Linked DNA regions of Homo sapiens: region 2 is linked to region 1. The links come from fine-mapping of genetic effects on gene expression. Tissue or cell type: whole blood. Region 1 holds a variant in brackets; the other region holds the start of a gene. All regions are shown on one strand. Distances are between the middles of the regions.

The links. PIP is the estimated chance that this variant, and not a neighbour inherited with it, causes the effect.
Region 2: it holds the start of EDARADD, and the variant in region 1 is fine-mapped to the expression of EDARADD in whole blood (TOPMed, PIP 0.99).

Annotation. Positions count from the first base shown.
Region 1 is chr1:236,116,345-236,124,450 of GRCh38, reverse strand. No RefSeq gene overlaps it. Among named protein-coding and RNA genes, the nearest start is that of GPR137B, 22 kb to the left of the region's middle. RefSeq lists an enhancer at 3,654-3,773. The variant C/T (reference allele first, on the strand shown) is at 3,256.
Region 2 is chr1:236,389,862-236,397,967 of GRCh38, reverse strand. It overlaps EDARADD (EDAR associated via death domain), which reads right to left and starts at 3,682. Exons shown (of 6, transcript NM_145861.4): 1 at 3,463-3,682. The coding sequence starts at 3,523. RefSeq lists silencers at 2,401-2,810, 7,968-8,106 and an enhancer at 3,011-3,060.

The DNA of each region.
Region 1 (8,106 bases):
ATTGCACTCCAACCTGGGTGACAGGGTGAGACCCCAGCGCTTAACAACAACAGAAGAGTAGTCAGGAAGGCAGCTTCCATCCCCAGGCATAGCTGGAGAATTCCTGGGGAGAGGGTCAAGGGGCTCACCTTAGGGTGAAGCCTCCTTCACCCCCTTCTGCATGGAAACTCCTTGACAGGTGGTTGGTTCAGCCTATGCCCTTGTAGCAGCACAGGGCTTGGCTCTAAACAATCAAGACAACTTCTCTAGTTGAACATATTTGAGAAAAGCAGGGCTAGGCAAGGTGTGCTAGTCGGCTTGAGCTGCCATGACAAAGTGCCACAGACTGGGAGGCTTGAATGACACAAATCTCCAGTTCTGGAAGCTGAAAGTTGGAGGCCAAGGCGTTGGCAGGGCTGGTTTCTCCTGATGCCACTCTCCTTGGTCACAGACAGCCTCCCTCCCCTGGGTCCTCACATGGGCTTCCCTCTGTGTGTGTCAGTATCCTAATCTCCACTTCTCATCAGGACCAGTCATATCCGATTAGGACCCACACTAATGGCCTCATTTTACCTTAATTACCTCCTTCTATTTGGAGAGAAGGCCCTCTCTCCAAATACAGTCACATTCTGGGTACTGCGGGTTAGAGCTTCAACATGTGAATTCCGGGGGAAGTACCCAGCCTGTGACACAAGGCTCACCAGGTCATCTGAGGTGAGTGGTGGCGGAAGGGAAGATTGCCTGTGATCATCATTCCTGCTGCTCATTGGCTTCTCTCTCTGTGCCAGGCTCTGTTCTATGTACTTTTCATGCAGTCAGGAAGTAACTCCTATTATCCTTGTAACGACCAATGAACTGACACTTCCCAGGAAGAGCAAAACAAAACAAGGCCCAAGTATCCGGATTGGTCTTGGACTGGAACAGGAAAGATGCAGGCAGATGATGGTTCACTGGAGTAGGCCCTGTTCAGCGTGTGCTTTCATCCGTCTGTAACACACATTGCAAACTCACCTTGTTGCTTGTCCAATGTGTTGGTTTCAAGATCATTAGTTAATCAAATCCACCAACAGATTTACTAAATGTACTGAATTTACTAAAGATTTACCTGGTGTTGGGCATGGAGCAAGACAGTTGGAAAGCTTGCAAGGGTAAGACATGATCCTGTAGGGGAAGTGCTTTCATGGTTACTTGTAGGCAGATATAGAAACTCTGGAAAATAGAAAGAGTGAATAATACTGAGTATTTGATCACACACTGAGGACTGTGGTCCATAATGGTTTAATTGTATATTTTAAAATGGCAGCCAGGCGCAGTGGCTCACGTCTGTAATCCCAGCAGTTTGGGAGGCCGAGGCGGGTGGATCACCCAAGGTCAGGAGTTCGAGACCAGTCTGGCTAACGTGGCAAAACCCCGTCTCTACTAAAAATACAAAAATTAGCCAGGCATAGTGGCGGGCGCCTGTAGTCCCAGCTACTCGACAGGCTTAGGCAGGAGAATTGCTGGAATCCGGGAGGCAGAGTTTGCAGTGAGCCGAGATAGGGCCACTGCACTCCAGCCTGGGCAACAGAGCAAGACTCCATCTCAGAAAATAAAGTAAAATAAAATAAAAAAAAAAAATAAACTCTGGAATGCTATGAATAAAACCAATAGTAATGGTTAAGGGTGGGACCTGGGGAGGTGTGGACAGAGGAGCAAGGGAACGTTGTCACTGTATGCATTTTGTATATTTTTATTTTTTTGAGTTGTTTATCTACTTGGCCTGTTCACAAAAATTATGTTGAGAGGGACAGAGAGACAGAGTGTTTGTCAGACATGAGCCCCTCCTCAAGGGGCTTATAACTAGTCACGTTGGCATTAGGCCTTGGCTTTAACAACACAGCAAGGCTAAAATGATTTCACTTTCTCCAGGCAAGAGCCTATGAGAGTAAATGGGACTAGAACCATGATCCTTACTTTGCAAGTAAAGAACTGAGGTCAAGAGAGAGCATGTGGATACGACCCCATGGTGAGTCGGGGTTCACGCCTGAACACAGGGAAAAGTCCCTGATTCATCATTTGAAACCCTCTTCACTGCGTATGTGGTTGGCCCTTTGAGAAGTTGATGGAAGTTTCTGTTAAAGTCATTCAAAGAATATGTTTTGAGTCAAAATGCCCATGGTCCCTGGCCTCTTGGGGTTCACATTTTAGTGGAGAAAATAAGGTAGATACTCAAATGAGCCTATGAGTACACGTTGTAGTAAGTCCGATGAAGAGGAAAAAGAGATGCTACGAGGAGGAATAGCCAGGGACAACACTTGGGCTTGGGTGGTCAGGGGAAGCTCTGGCTCATTGACATTCAGCTGAGATCCACCGAGCTACGAGAGGGCTGTTGAGGTGTGGACAGGACTGTAAAAGGGAAGGGTCATTCCTTGAGCCCAAAGCCTGTGGTCTTCTAATACAATGTCATTCGTGGGTTCCCTGTTGGCTCATCAGCTACCAAGCTTGGTACCAGGCAATTTGGGATAGGATGAAAACAAAGTCGAAAACATGCTCTTTGACCCCAAAAAACTTACCTCCTAATTGGAGAAGTGAAAATAACCCAGAAACAACCACAGAGTGCTTTAGAGAGTCATGGGATATGGCCGGGCATGGTGGCTCACGCCTGTAATCCCAGCATTTTGGGAGGCTGAGGCGGGTGGATCACCTGAGGTCAGGAGTTCAAGACCACCCTGGGCAACATGGTGAAACCCCATCTCTACTAATAATACAAAAATTAGCTGGGCATGGTGGCGCGTGCCTGTAATCCCAGCTACTCGGGAGGCTGAGGCAGGAGAATCGCTTGAACCCGGGAGGCAGAGGCTGTGGTGAGCCGAGGTCGTGCCGCTGCACTCCAGCCTGGGCAACAACAGCAAACTCCATCTCCAAAACAACAACAACAAAAAAGAGTCTTGGGTTAGGGGAGGAAAGAAGGAGAGATGCAACCAGGTGTGATTGATTTAGCAGGTGGAAAAGTGGGGAAGGCCTACCAGGCAGAGAATCGAGGTGGGTAGACTAGTCTCGTGGAGACAGACCATGGTCCTGGAGTCATTGATGTTGAATCCCAGCTCCTCCGTGTGCCCGCTGGGTGACACTGGGCAAGTTATTTTTTCTGTCCAAACTTCAGTCTTCTAATCTGGAAATCAAGTTATGTTTTCTACTTCTTATGTGGCTGCAAACATTAAATGAAGTAAGATGAATGTAGGATTTTGGAGAACGAAATGCCTGTGGCCCACAGCTGCCTACGATGTAGGGGTGGCA[C/T]ATCTCCCGGGGGGCGAAGCTGGGTGAATTTCCAGTGTCAGCTGCAACCACCAGCTCAGCCTCCTGCTTAGTAACCATCTTTACGACTACAGACAGCAGTCCTCATCTCTGCCCCCTAATTAGCAGTCCTAACTAAGTGATAGGTGGGTTTGGTGGAAACCACACACAACTACCGAGGAAACCAGCTGGGTTTGTCAAAGGAAACCAATCTCCCTGTCCCTCTCCGTGCCCCTCTCTGTTCCCCTCTCCCTCCCCACTTCTCTTCCCTTTCCTTCTCTGCAGTGACCTAGGATCTCACTCAGTACAGCCGGCTTTCAAAGAACTCTAGGCAGAATCGCTCTCTCCTCGATGAGTCAAATCTAAGGCCATTTATCTCAACCCGTAACGTGAAAATAGTGAAAATCAAGAGTGAAACAGAAGTTGTTTCCTCTCGAGAATCAAGAGTGAAACGAAAGTTATATTTCCTCTAGAGAATCAAGAGTGAAATGGAAGTTGTTTCCTCTAGAGAAGCCCCTTGAATAACTTGGACATTTCTATCAGCAACCGTCTTCTAGAATCAGGTCACAATCAAGGGTGAGGGGAGAAGTCTGTGATTCCCAGCACCATGAGAGGATGCAGCCACCACTTTGATACCTTGGAAAATGTGGATCAGTTTAATCTGAAAAATGTTGAACAATCTTCAAACACAGATGTCCCCACTTTCTGGATTTTCGGGTTGAAAGAGATGGAAAATACTCCTTTGTTTTACACCTGAAGGCTGCTGGGCCTTCTGAGATCTGCTAGTCAGCGGCAGATGTAGAAAAAACCAGGACTCAAGTTTTCTGATGCAGAGATGTCTTTCAGCCGCACCGCTCTGCCTGTGTCTCGGTCTGGTGTGGGCTCATCTAAAGCAGCAAGCTCTCGTAGACTGTGATCCGGAGGCGGGAAGCATCCCCCTCTCCACCCTCCTTAAAATGCCTCCCCCTAAGAAGTCTTTCTACTCCAGTCCAGGATTACAACACTTACTTTATTTCCTTTATTTTCTTAGGACCATGCAGAGACTGCGTACATTTCCTCTAAGGCTTTGTCACCCCGTGAGGTCCCTCAGTAGAAAGGATGTTTACATAGTGGGAAGGGTCAGAACTTTCCAAGACCTGATGTCCAGTCCTTACTCTGCCCCTTACTGATTTTCACTCCATCGAGACAATGATCTCTTTTCTAGAGCAGCGCACATTTATTTATTCATTGTCCAAATATAAGGTACACTAAGCACTGAGACATAAAGAGGACAAGCAAGACCTCCCCGACGCCCCTACCCCTGCTTCCAGGACCTTGCTCTGTTGTGGAGACAGATGGGCACACGGGCAACTACATCATATGTTCTAGGATAAAGCGACCATGTATGCAGAGACAGGGAGGCATGAGGCAGCCTGGGCTTCCAGCACTGGGACTGCAGACGGTTCTACTGCAGACTGTAAAGGGGTGGAGTGGGATGGGGATATTGTTAGAGGTCACCAGGGGCCAGATGACAAGGGACATCCTATATCTAACTAAAGAGGTTAGATGTTATCATGTCAGCTCAGGCCGCCCTTGTAGACTTGAGGGCAGGATCACACTTTCCTGGTAGAAAGATCGTAGTTGTCTAATTAGCAAGGCCAGAGGCAGGCAAACCAGGCAAGTGCTTATTGAAACGTTGCAGGGAGTGAGGATGAGTTCCTGAGGCAGGAGAAGGAGAAGCCTGAAGAAAAGAACCTGCTTGAGTCCAGGAGTTCGAGACCAGCCTGGGCAACATAGCGAGACCCTGTCTCTATCTAAAAAATAAAATAAAATAAAAAGGGGAGACTAATTTAAAAACATGAAAAGAGGCCGGGTGGTAGCTCACGCCTGTAATCCCAGCTACTTGAGAGGCTGAGGCAGGAAAATCGCTTGAGCCAGGGAGGTGGAGGTTGCAGTGAGCCGAGATCACGCCATTGCACTCCAGCCTGGGTGACAGAGCGAGACTCCGTCTCAAAACATAAAAACATGAAAAGGGGCCAGGCACAGTGGCTTACGCCTGTAATCCCAGCACTTTGGGAGGCCGAGGCCCGCAGATCAACTGAGGTCAGGAGTTCAAGGCCAGCCTGGCCAATGTGGTGAAACCCCATCTCTTACTAAAAATACAAAAATTTAGCCTGGCGGGTTGGTGAGCGCTTGTAATCCCAGCTACTCGGGAGACTGAGGCAGGAGAATTACTTGAACCAGGGAGGTGGAGGTTGCAGTGAGCCGAGACCTACCCCTTACTGATTTTCACTCCATTGAGACAATGATCTCTTTTCTAGAGCAGCGCACATTTATTTATTCATTGTCCAAATATAAGGTACACTAAGCACTGAGACATAAAGAGGACAAGCAAGACCTCCCCCACGCCCCCGACCTCTGCTTCCAGGACCTTGCTCTGTTGTGGAGACAGATGGGCACACAGGCAGCTACATCATAAGTTCTAGGATAAAGCAACTGCTGTCCAGCCTAGGAAACAGAGCGAGACTCCGTCTCAAAACAACAAAAAGAAACAAAACAATCAAACAGAAAAACATGAAAAGAAAAGGACAAGAAAACACCCAAGAATTAGTAGTAGGAAACTCAAGACAGAGAGTATTATGGAAACCTGGGGAGGAGATAATTTCTAAGAGAGATTGGAAAACAAGATTGTCAAATGCTGCAGACCAGAAACAAGACAAGACCAGGAAGCAGCCCATGAAACTCAGCCCCCAGGAGGCCTTTGACAGCCTGAAGGGAGTCAGTTCCAGGACAGCCACGGGCAAAAGCCAGAGTGCAAGTGTTAAAGAGAAAACACAAAAGCAAGGTAAGGAAGAAAGCCTCAGTTTCCTCACCTGACGATGAGGACGGCAATAAAATGTTATGAGACTATGGATTCAAAAGCTTCAAAAGCTTACCCACGGATGATTAAGAAGTTCCGGAGCTGGATGGTGGTGACAGTTGCAACGACATCGTGAAGGGACTTAAAGGCACTGGATTTTACACTTAAAATGATTTAAATAATACATTTTGCCTTATGTATATCACCCCACTGAATTGTACACTTAAAATGATTTAAATGATACATTTTGTCTTATGTATATTTTACTGCAATTTTTAAAGGGGAAGAAAAGCTTACAGAAAATGGCAGTGTTCTGTGCAGGTGTTGTTTATTTATTTAGAAGGCTAAGAAGGAGAGCTCGTGCTGAAAGCTTGGGAGAGGTAAGGGGCTGAATGATCAGGAGTTTCAGGTGTGGGGAAAGCGCAGAGGAAAGGAGGCCACACCCCGCTCAGGTAACAGGTCCAGGCTGATCCCTGATAGGTGTCGTAAGATATCAGAGTCAGAACTGACTGTGGCCCCGCAATCGAAGTGTCTTATTTTGCCAGGGAGGCTAAAGGGAGAAGGGGAGGCAGCGACTTCTCAGAAGCAGCACCGCCATCCTCACCTAGGTATAGGGTCCTCTGAGGACCAAATGAGAAACTGCTTGTGAAAACCCTGGGTGAAATACTGCATACTAGAGGATCAGGAGGTAGACTACCATCAGCGTCCCCCGACCTTACAATGTTGCATTGTAGTAATTAATACAATATGAAATCATTTTTATGTTATTGAGAAGAATTTGGAAAATATAGAAAACCATGGAATAAAATTAAAAATAATCATTGTTGGCCAGGCGCAATGGCTCACACCTGTAATCCCAGCACTTTGGGAGGCCGAGGTGGGCGGATCATGAGGTCTAGGAGTTTGAGACCAGCCTGGCCAATATGGTGAAACCCCGTCTCTACTAAAAATACAAAAATTACCCGGACGAGGTGGCTCGTGCCTGAAGTCCCAGCTACTCGGGAGGCTGAAGCAGAAGAATCACTTGAACCCGGGAGATGGAGGTTGCAGTGAGCCGAGATGGTGCCACTGCACTCCAGCCTGAGTGACAGAGCGAGACTCCATCTCAAAAATAAAAAATAACCATTGTCTCTCAACTTGACACTTTTTTTTTTCTTTCTGGAGACAGGGTCCTGCTCTTTTGCCCAGGCTGGAGTGCAGTGGTGAAATCATGACTCACTGCAAACTCTGCCTCCTGGGCTCAAGCAATCCTCCCACTGCAGCCTCCCTAGTAGCTGGAATCACAGGTGTGCACCATCATATCTGGCTAATTTTTATAGTTTTTGTAGAGACAAGGTTTTGCCATGTTGCTCAGGCTGGTATCGAGCCCCTGGGCTCAAGCGATTTGCCCACCTCGGCCTCGAAAAGTGTTGGGATTACAGGCATGAGCCACCCTGCCTGGCCATGATAACCTGAACAATTTGATAATGTGACTTTCAAATAACTTTTCTTATTATAGCTTCATACTCATATTCATATTCATAATTAAAAATCTGGAAAATACAGAAAAGTATAAAGAAGCAGATATGCATTCCTGGTAACCCCACAGTTTATATGTATTATACCAGACTTACTGATAGTCTTTCTGTAAATGCCCTTTTAAAAATTATGGTATATTGGCCAAGTGTGGTGGATTATGCCTGCAATCCCAGCACTTAGGGAGGCTGAGGTGGGTGGATCACCTGAGGTCAGGACTTCGAGACCAGCCTGACCAATATGGTGAAACCCCATCTCTACTAAATACAAAACATTAGCCAGGTGTGGTAGTGCATGCCTGTAATCCCAGCTACTCAGGAGGCTGAGGCAGAAGAATCGCTTGAACCTGGGAAGCAGAGGTTGCAGAGAGCCGAGATGACACCATTGCACTCCAGCCTGGGCAACAAGAGCAAAACTCCATCTCAAACAAACAAACAAACAAAAACAGTATATTTTACATAACCTATTCCTTCCACTAAATATAGCATGAATATTTTCTC
Region 2 (8,106 bases), 270 kb before region 1:
AAGCGAGCTCAAGATATGGGCACCATCTATGGTTTCATTACAGAAATAGGAGTAAGGGGATGTCTCCTGTGGGTTGCAGAAACGAAACAATATGTTAGGAAGGGGAAATTGGGGTGTGTGTGTGCGCCTGTGTTTAAATGGAGGAGCGCTCATTTTATAGACAGAATAGAGTCCCAGAGCGGGAATGGACATTTGGATCATCTTTCAGATGGTCAAGTATGTTCTTCAGCATCCTCTGCCAACTGGTGGGGAGCTCTCACCCTTAGGAGGCCTCCTTTCTCTTTGTAGGAAGCCCAAATCCATCTCTCTCTAAAGTTTTCACCGACAGGTTTGGGTTCTACCTCTTGAAGTCAAAGAGACAGATTCTTTCCACATGACGCCCTCTTATCATCATATCCTCTGTCCTCTCACTCCTCCACATGTCCTGGGATTTTGAAATCCCTTTGTTCCATGTTGCCCATTTGTTCCAGGTTGTGCACATCCATTTTGGCTGGGCTGGGCAGACTAAGAACACCATCTTGGGAAATCTGGAACCTGTAGCTTTTTATTTATTTATTTATTTATTTTGAGATACAGGTTTTTGCTCTGTCACCCAGGCTGGAGTGCAGTGGCTTACTGCAGCCTCGACCTCCTGGACTCAAGCAATCCTCCTGCCTCAGCCCCCCGAGTAGCTGGGACTATAGGTATGCACTGGCACATTTGGCTAATTTTTCTATTTTTTGTAGAGTCAGGGTCTCACTATGTTGCCAAGGCTGATCTCAAACTCCTGGCCTGAAGCAATCCTCTTGCCTCAGCCTCCCAAAGTGCTGGCATTACAGGCCTGAGCCACTGCACCCAGCCACTGAGCTTTTTACACACTGTGGTCACTGCTGAGCTGTTTCCCAGCCCCCATCTTGCCTGGTACTGTCGATTTAGGGGAGCCCAAGTAGATTTTACATTTTATCTCCATGCAGTGTATCTCTCTCAAGATCTTTTTGAATTCCCCCACCCCCCACCCCTGCAATCATCATTTAATGAGATCTGAGGCCACTAGTAGTAAAATCCAGCCTAAAACACCCCTTGGCACCTTGTCAATTCAGTTCTCAGAAAAGGAGGTGGATGCTAGGGTAGGAGTGGAGTGGGATGGGGCAGTAGGAGGGTTTCTCCCTTTGTTTCCCCTTCTGTTTTTTCAAACAATAGGTATGGGGATGGGGAAGAATATCTAGACAATGTATTTATTTTCCGCATCCAATTGATAAAATGTTTAACAATCCCCACTTAAAAAAAAAAAAGGTAGATCTTTCTTTGAAGTTTCCAAGAAACGCCCCCAAACCCAGCCATCACAATGCCAACTTAGTTGTTGGGTGTAGTCTTCTGACCACCTGCAGACACACTGTCTCCTTTTGACTGCTGAAGCCACAATTTAAGGATGGAACATTCAAACTCGGCCCCTGCCCAAGCTCAAGAAATGAAATAGGAAACGCGTTTATCTAAACGGTTATATCAGGTTCTGTGTAACTCTCTTCAGTGTTTCCAACCTCAACAAAACCAAGTAAAGCCCCAGTGTACTCTGAGGGATAGATCATTCATTCGTGTGTTCAAGAAACACCCACGGATGTCACCGTCTAGGTTATAGGACAGCGGAGAGAGAGAACTCCAGGAAAGCGAGGTCTGGGACGGATTTTAGATTCACGTGAGAGAATAGAGAAAAATCTCCACTCCGACCTCGGGTACCAACACACAATATTTTAAAATAAAGACAGAACTAGAGGCCATTCTAATCACAGATGGGATCCCACAGGTGGGATCCGCCTCTCGATTCTGCGGATACTATCTGATGAAATAGCTCCGAGGGCCAATGTTTAGACAGACAAAACCATTTCATCAAAGTGCAATGGGAGAGAGGAAGAGGAGTAATGAGAAGGCATGTGAGCGGGGAGAAAGAAAAAGCCCGGGAGGCGAAAACGAAATCCACCCCCTTGCGCCCATTTCTGCCAGAGGTTTGCAGGACGTGTCTCAACCTGGCATCCCGAGTCCAGAACAAAAGCCACGGGGGCTGCGGCATGGGCAGGGGGAAGGCGCGCGGTGGCTGACGCGGGGCAGGGGCCCTGGCGAGCGCGGGAGGGGCGGTCAGCAGCCGCTCGCGGGGCTGGACTGGGAGCCCCGTGCGACTCCGGGTCTGGCGCCTGGGTCGGGGGTGGTTCCCGGGCCTCCCTCGGGGGTCGCCGAGGCCCGGCCTCGATAGCCCTGCGGCTGCTGCGAGCGCCTCCCGAGCTCCCGCCCCGCGGTGCTCGCTCCAGGAGCGGGCGCGGCGCTGTGTCCCTTTACCTGCGCGCAGAGGGTCGTCCGGTGAAGCCATGGCGGCGGGTTAGGGGCAAACGAGCGTCCGAGCGGGGCTGGCAGGCCTCCGGGGCGCGGGAGGACCGTGGGACCACGGGGATGAAAAGTCCTGCGGTTCCGACGCGCCTGGAGCAAACCGTGGCTCTGCGCGCCCCTGCCCTCCTCCGCCTTCCCCTCCCTTCTTCTTCTCCTCCTTCGCTTCTTCCACGAGCTCACTTCCTGCTTTGGCAATTAGCAAAGCCCCTTCGCTGCGCGTCCCTCGGTACCTCCCTCCAGAGGCGCGGGGCGGGAGCCGGGGTGCCGCGACCCGGGGCTGGGACGCAAGGCGGGGCCCCGAGTGTCCCGGGCGTCCCCAGCGCCCAGAGCGCGCGTCCTGCCCGGTACCCACGTCCCCCTGGGCGGGTCCTAGCGGGGGGCTGACACGACTGCCGCCCGGGACAGACTGCGAGCGAAGGACTGGCCTTAAGAAACGGCTGCAGTCGCGGGTCGCTTTCCTGGCTCCCTACTCACGCCCTCAGCTGAGACACCAGAACTCCCCTTACACAGGCCTGGGCTGAGATGCCCGCCGGCGATCTGATATTTAGACAAATTTCCTGATCTTTAAGCAGGCTCTGCCGCTGCATGATGGCACACGCTGGTACTTTCTATTTTGATTTTTCTTTGGCATTAGTTACTACATGACCTCCAGGGTGAGTGCTGCAGAAAAGGAGTGAACAGAAGTCGCCCAATACACACTCACAGCTTCTCTAGAAAAAACAGCTTCGGGTTCTCTCAGAAAAGATGGCTTCAAATATTTAAAATATTACGCTTAAGTGGGGTTTTATACCCATTACTTAAGTGAGAACACGTTGGAATTGGTTATGAAGAATATATTTAAGATTGCTACATTTTAACTAAAGCTATCATCCATCATAAGCCTATTATAGGAAGGCGACAGGCATTTTAAATTAAATAGGAATCTTTGAAGAGCTCTAAATAATCTTTCTCTGCCTTCACACATAAGAACAGAAAGATAAAAGTCGGGTCGAAAAAGATAATAATAGTATTTAGTGTATAATATATCCAAGAATTATCGTAAATAAGCAACCTCTGGCTAAAAACTCAGCTCTGAGAAATCCAGGAAGACAGCAAATGCCTACATACCCTCTTGGTGACCAGGAGCTTTAGTGCCTCTCCCCATCTGTTTAGTCGTCCTGAGGCCCATGGCGATGTTGAGTTTGGCTTCTTAATTCTCTGGAGTTTGCCATGGAAGAAGCAACAGATTGCGAGAAGATGCTCGCTGGTTGTCTGGCCAGAGTCAAACCTTCTAGATGAAAGCTCTCTGGGGAATTTGTAGGTGGGAGGATAAACTTCCTCTTGGTCTGCCTTCGGATAGGAAGGGAAATTTTTTTTAAGGGTATTTTATCTTAGAATCAATTTGGAGGTTTGGTTTGTGGTTCTTTCTGTACTTCTCATGGAGATGGAATTATTCTGACGTTGGCCGTCAGGAAACACTAGTTGAGTGAGCTTGTTAGCAGCCCAACCTCAAGCATTGCTATAAAGCTGGTTTGCTTTTTGAAACTCTGAAATGTAATTCATGTTTTTATCATTCCCATTCTGCATTATATCAAATAGAAGATGGTGGTATATTTTAAGGGTTTTTTTTTTTAAGGAAGATTGACTAGTTACGTAGTTATTACTCCCTTTCATTTTCATTTCCTCGTGCCTCCTTTCCTATGAATTGCAACGATCCCCATCATTACCTTTATTTTTCCCATGTGCTTTGCGAACTATAAAGTATGACGCAAATGGGTGCTATTGTTGTTTTGCACTTTACAAAAAAAGTAATTTAAAAATGATTCGCATTCACCAGAGTTCCCATACAATCAATTTGCTGTCACAATGTCCTTCAACTTTTATTTCTTTTGCTGTCCAAGAGTGTTTTAAACCACTATTGAAAATAGACATTTTTGGGCTGGGTGCAGTGGCTCACACCTGTAACCCCAGCACTTTGGGAGCCCAAGGCAGGTGGATTATTTGAGGTCAGGAGTTCGAGGCCAGCCTGGCCAATGTGATGAAACCCCACCGCTACTAAAAATACAAAAAACTTAGCTGGATTGGTGGCACATGCCTGTACTCCCAGCCACTCAGGAAGCTGAGGCAAAAGAATCGCTTGAACCTGGGAGGTGGAGGTTGCAGTAAGCTGAGATTGCACCACGGCACTCCAGCCTGGGCGACAGAGTGAGACTCTGTCTCAAAAAAAAAAAAAAAAAAAAAAGAAAGAAAGAAAGAAAAGAAAATGGACATTTTTAACATTTCCCGATAGTACCCAAACACTCAATCTCAGAGTCATGTGAAAAATTTCATATTTCCATAACTTCACTGCTCTTTGAGTGACCTCCAATTTTCCTTTTCCAATAAATGGAGATAGTGCATTTGGTAATCATGGAGTCAAATATGCTGGATTTCGCTGATGGACCTGTCACTCTAAGGTTGTGTTACATTAAGTAAGAAACCAAAACTGAGTCTGCAAGTGTCTGCAGGATTGTGAGAATTCACTGAAATAATGTTTATGTGAAAATACTGGCTGGGCATGGTGGCTCACACATGCAATTTCAGCACTTTCGGAGGCCAAGGTGGCAGGATTGCTTGAGGCAAGGAGTTCAAGACCAGCCTATGCAACATTTTGAGACCCAGTCTCTACAAAATAATTTAAATATTAGCTGGATCCCAGCACTTTGGGAGGCCAAGGTGGGTGGATCGCTTGAAGTCAGAAGTTCGAGATCAGACTGCCCAACATGGTGAAACCCCGTCTCTGCTTAAAATACAAAAATTAGCTGGGCGTGGTGACAGGCACCTGTAATCCCAGCTACTTGGGAGGCTGAGGCAGGAGAATCACTTGAATCCAGGAGGTGGAGGATCAGTGAGCTGAGATCATGCCACTGCACTCCAGCCTGGGTGACAGAGTGAGACTCCATCTCAAAATAAATAAATAAATAAATAAATACAAATACAAATACAAAAATTAGCCAGGTGTGGTGGCAGGCACCCAACTACTTGGGAGGCTGAGGCAGGAGAATCGCTTAAACCTGGGAGGCAGAGCTGCAGTGAGCTGAGATTGTGCCACTGCACTCCAGCCTGGGTGATAGAGCAAGACTCTGACAAAAAAAAAAAAAAATTAGCTGAGCATGGTGGTACATGCCTGTAGTCCCTGCTACTCTCGGAGGGTGAAGCACGAGGGTCACTTGAGCCAAGGAGTTACAGACCTCAGGGAGCTATGATCAGACCACACCACTGGGTGACAGAATGAGACCCTGTCTCCAGGCAAGCAAACAAACAAACCTAAACTAAGGCCTGTCATATAGTAGGTGCAAATAAACCAGCTACTTTCCTACCTTCATTCTTTCCTTGGAATTTAGTTTATTGAGAGAAGCTCCTATTGCCTTAGTTATAAGAAGTCAACCAATATTTATTACAGTGTTTGTACACAGCATGGAGCAATGGATTGATTGGTTTCATTCATTAATGCAATTTTAAAAATCTCACCCCCTCCCCATGAACAAAACAAAATTCCAAGCCCTGGGGAAATCCAAATGAGAAGTCCCTGACTGTTAGGAGTTTGTGGTCAAAAGAGATTTGCAAATACTGTTTTGCTATAGTACTGGAGAAATGAAAGTTTAAACCAGGAAAGATGTGTGTGTGGAAGGAGGCACTGAAGATGTATGGAAGCAAAGTGGCTTGGTCATGACCATCTCGGATTGACAGGGAAAGTTTCAGGCAAATTCCGAGGCTTTAACTCATGGGCACAAGGCTGCAGCCGTAAGTGTGGAAAGGACTGTTGGTCTCATGTCTTTTCACAAACAGATGACAATGATCAGAAATGTGCTGTTTTAAATGGGGGAAACAACAACTCAAAATATATTTTGTTTGATTCATCACAGAATACATGTTTTTGCTTATTTTATGCCATTTGAGGTAAGTGTTACAGTGAAATTTCTGCAATCTAAAAAGTTACATTATTGAACCACATGTGTCTTACTTCAAAGGATATGTACATTCCATACAGATAAAACCCAGCAAACTGGGCTGCTCAAGTGGGACTGATCTACAGAAAAGTGGCTAGAACCACGATGGTAAAATATAAATTTAGGAACATAAGAGACCCTATGCCTCAGAATGTGCCAGTTCCTACAGTTGAATTTGCTTGATATACCCTTAGTGAATCATATGTGATGGAAGATGCCCCAACAAGAGTTACTAAGTTTCCATGTCTCTGCATTTTTGGAACAGACAGTTGTTAAATTTTGCCCAGAGTGCTTTAAGGCAGTTGTACTAACTTCTGGTAATAGTGTCCAAGTTTTCTTCTTGAGAATCACTGTTCCCATCCTCAATCCAAGCAATTAGGTGGTGGCGACATCACCCCTGACTCCTGAGTCCAGGGGCTGGAATATGACTCAATTACAGCCTTTCAGGGCATTGCTACAGTGAGCCACTGAGTGGAGGAGGTGCGTGGGATCTTTACAGGGACAGGGGGACCGGTCTTAAAATAATTAGCCCAAGCTGGGCGTGGTGGCAGGCGCCTGTACTCTCAGCTACTTAGGAGGCTGAGGTGGGAGAATCACTTAAACCCAGGAGGGGGAGGTTGCAGTGAGTTGAGATCACACCATTGTACTCCAGCCTGGCGACAGAGTGAGACTCCATCTCAAAAAATAATAATAATAATAACAACTAACCCAAGAGCACACAGGTGGTAAGTGGTAGAAGGAAGGAGCAGGAGTGAAACATTTAGGAGGCTCTAGACTACTGACCTTCTTGAATGCCAGACAAAAGCATCTGAAACTAGTTTTTAGACAACAGGAAGCCAGGAAGCTAGTTTTTGAAAAGTGGCATGAGAAAATTGGTGTTTTGGAAGATTAATCCAGCAGCTGTGTGTAGGATGGAACAGAGCTAGGAGAGAATGCAGGGAGAGACCCTTTAATCCTTTTGATACACTGTAATTTATTAGAGTTGAATTTACATCCTCATCCAAATGCAGGAGAAACATATCAGAATTTTTTTTCCATACGTTATTGGGGTACAGGTGGTATTTGGTTAATGAGTAAGTTCTTTTTTTTTCTGAGACGGAGTCTCGCTCTGTCCCCCAGGCTGGAGTGCAGTGGCTGGATCTCAGCTCACTGCAAGCTCCGCCTACCAGGTTCACGCCATTCTCCTGCCTCAGCCTCCTGTAGCTGGGATTACAGGCGCCCGCCACCACGCCCAGCTAATTTTTTGTATTTTTAGTAGAGATGGGGTTTCACCGTGTTAGCCAGGATGGTCTTGATCTCCTGACCTCGTGATCCGCCCGCCTCGGCCTCCCAAAGTGCTGGGATTACAGGCATGAGCCACCACGCCCGGCCATGAGTAAGTTCTTTAGTGGTGGTTTGTGAGATTTTGGTGCACCCATCACCCGAGGAGAATACAGTGCACCATATTGGTTGTCTTTTATCCCTTGCCCCCTCCCACTCTTCCCTCAAGTCCCCAAAGTTCACTGTATCATTCTTATGCCTTTGCATCCTCATAGCTTAGCTCCTACACATCAGTGAGAACACACGATGTTTGGTTTTCCATTCCTATCAGAAAATATTAAATCTTCTTTTGCTACCTTCTTGTTTTTGAGACAGGGTCTTGCTCTGTCTCCGAGGCTGGAGTGCAAAGTGTAGTGGCATGATCACAGCTCACTGCAGCGTCGTCGTCCTGAGGTTCAAGCAGTCCCTCCACCTCAGCCTCTTGAGTGTCTGGGACTACAGATGTACCCCACCACGCCTGGCC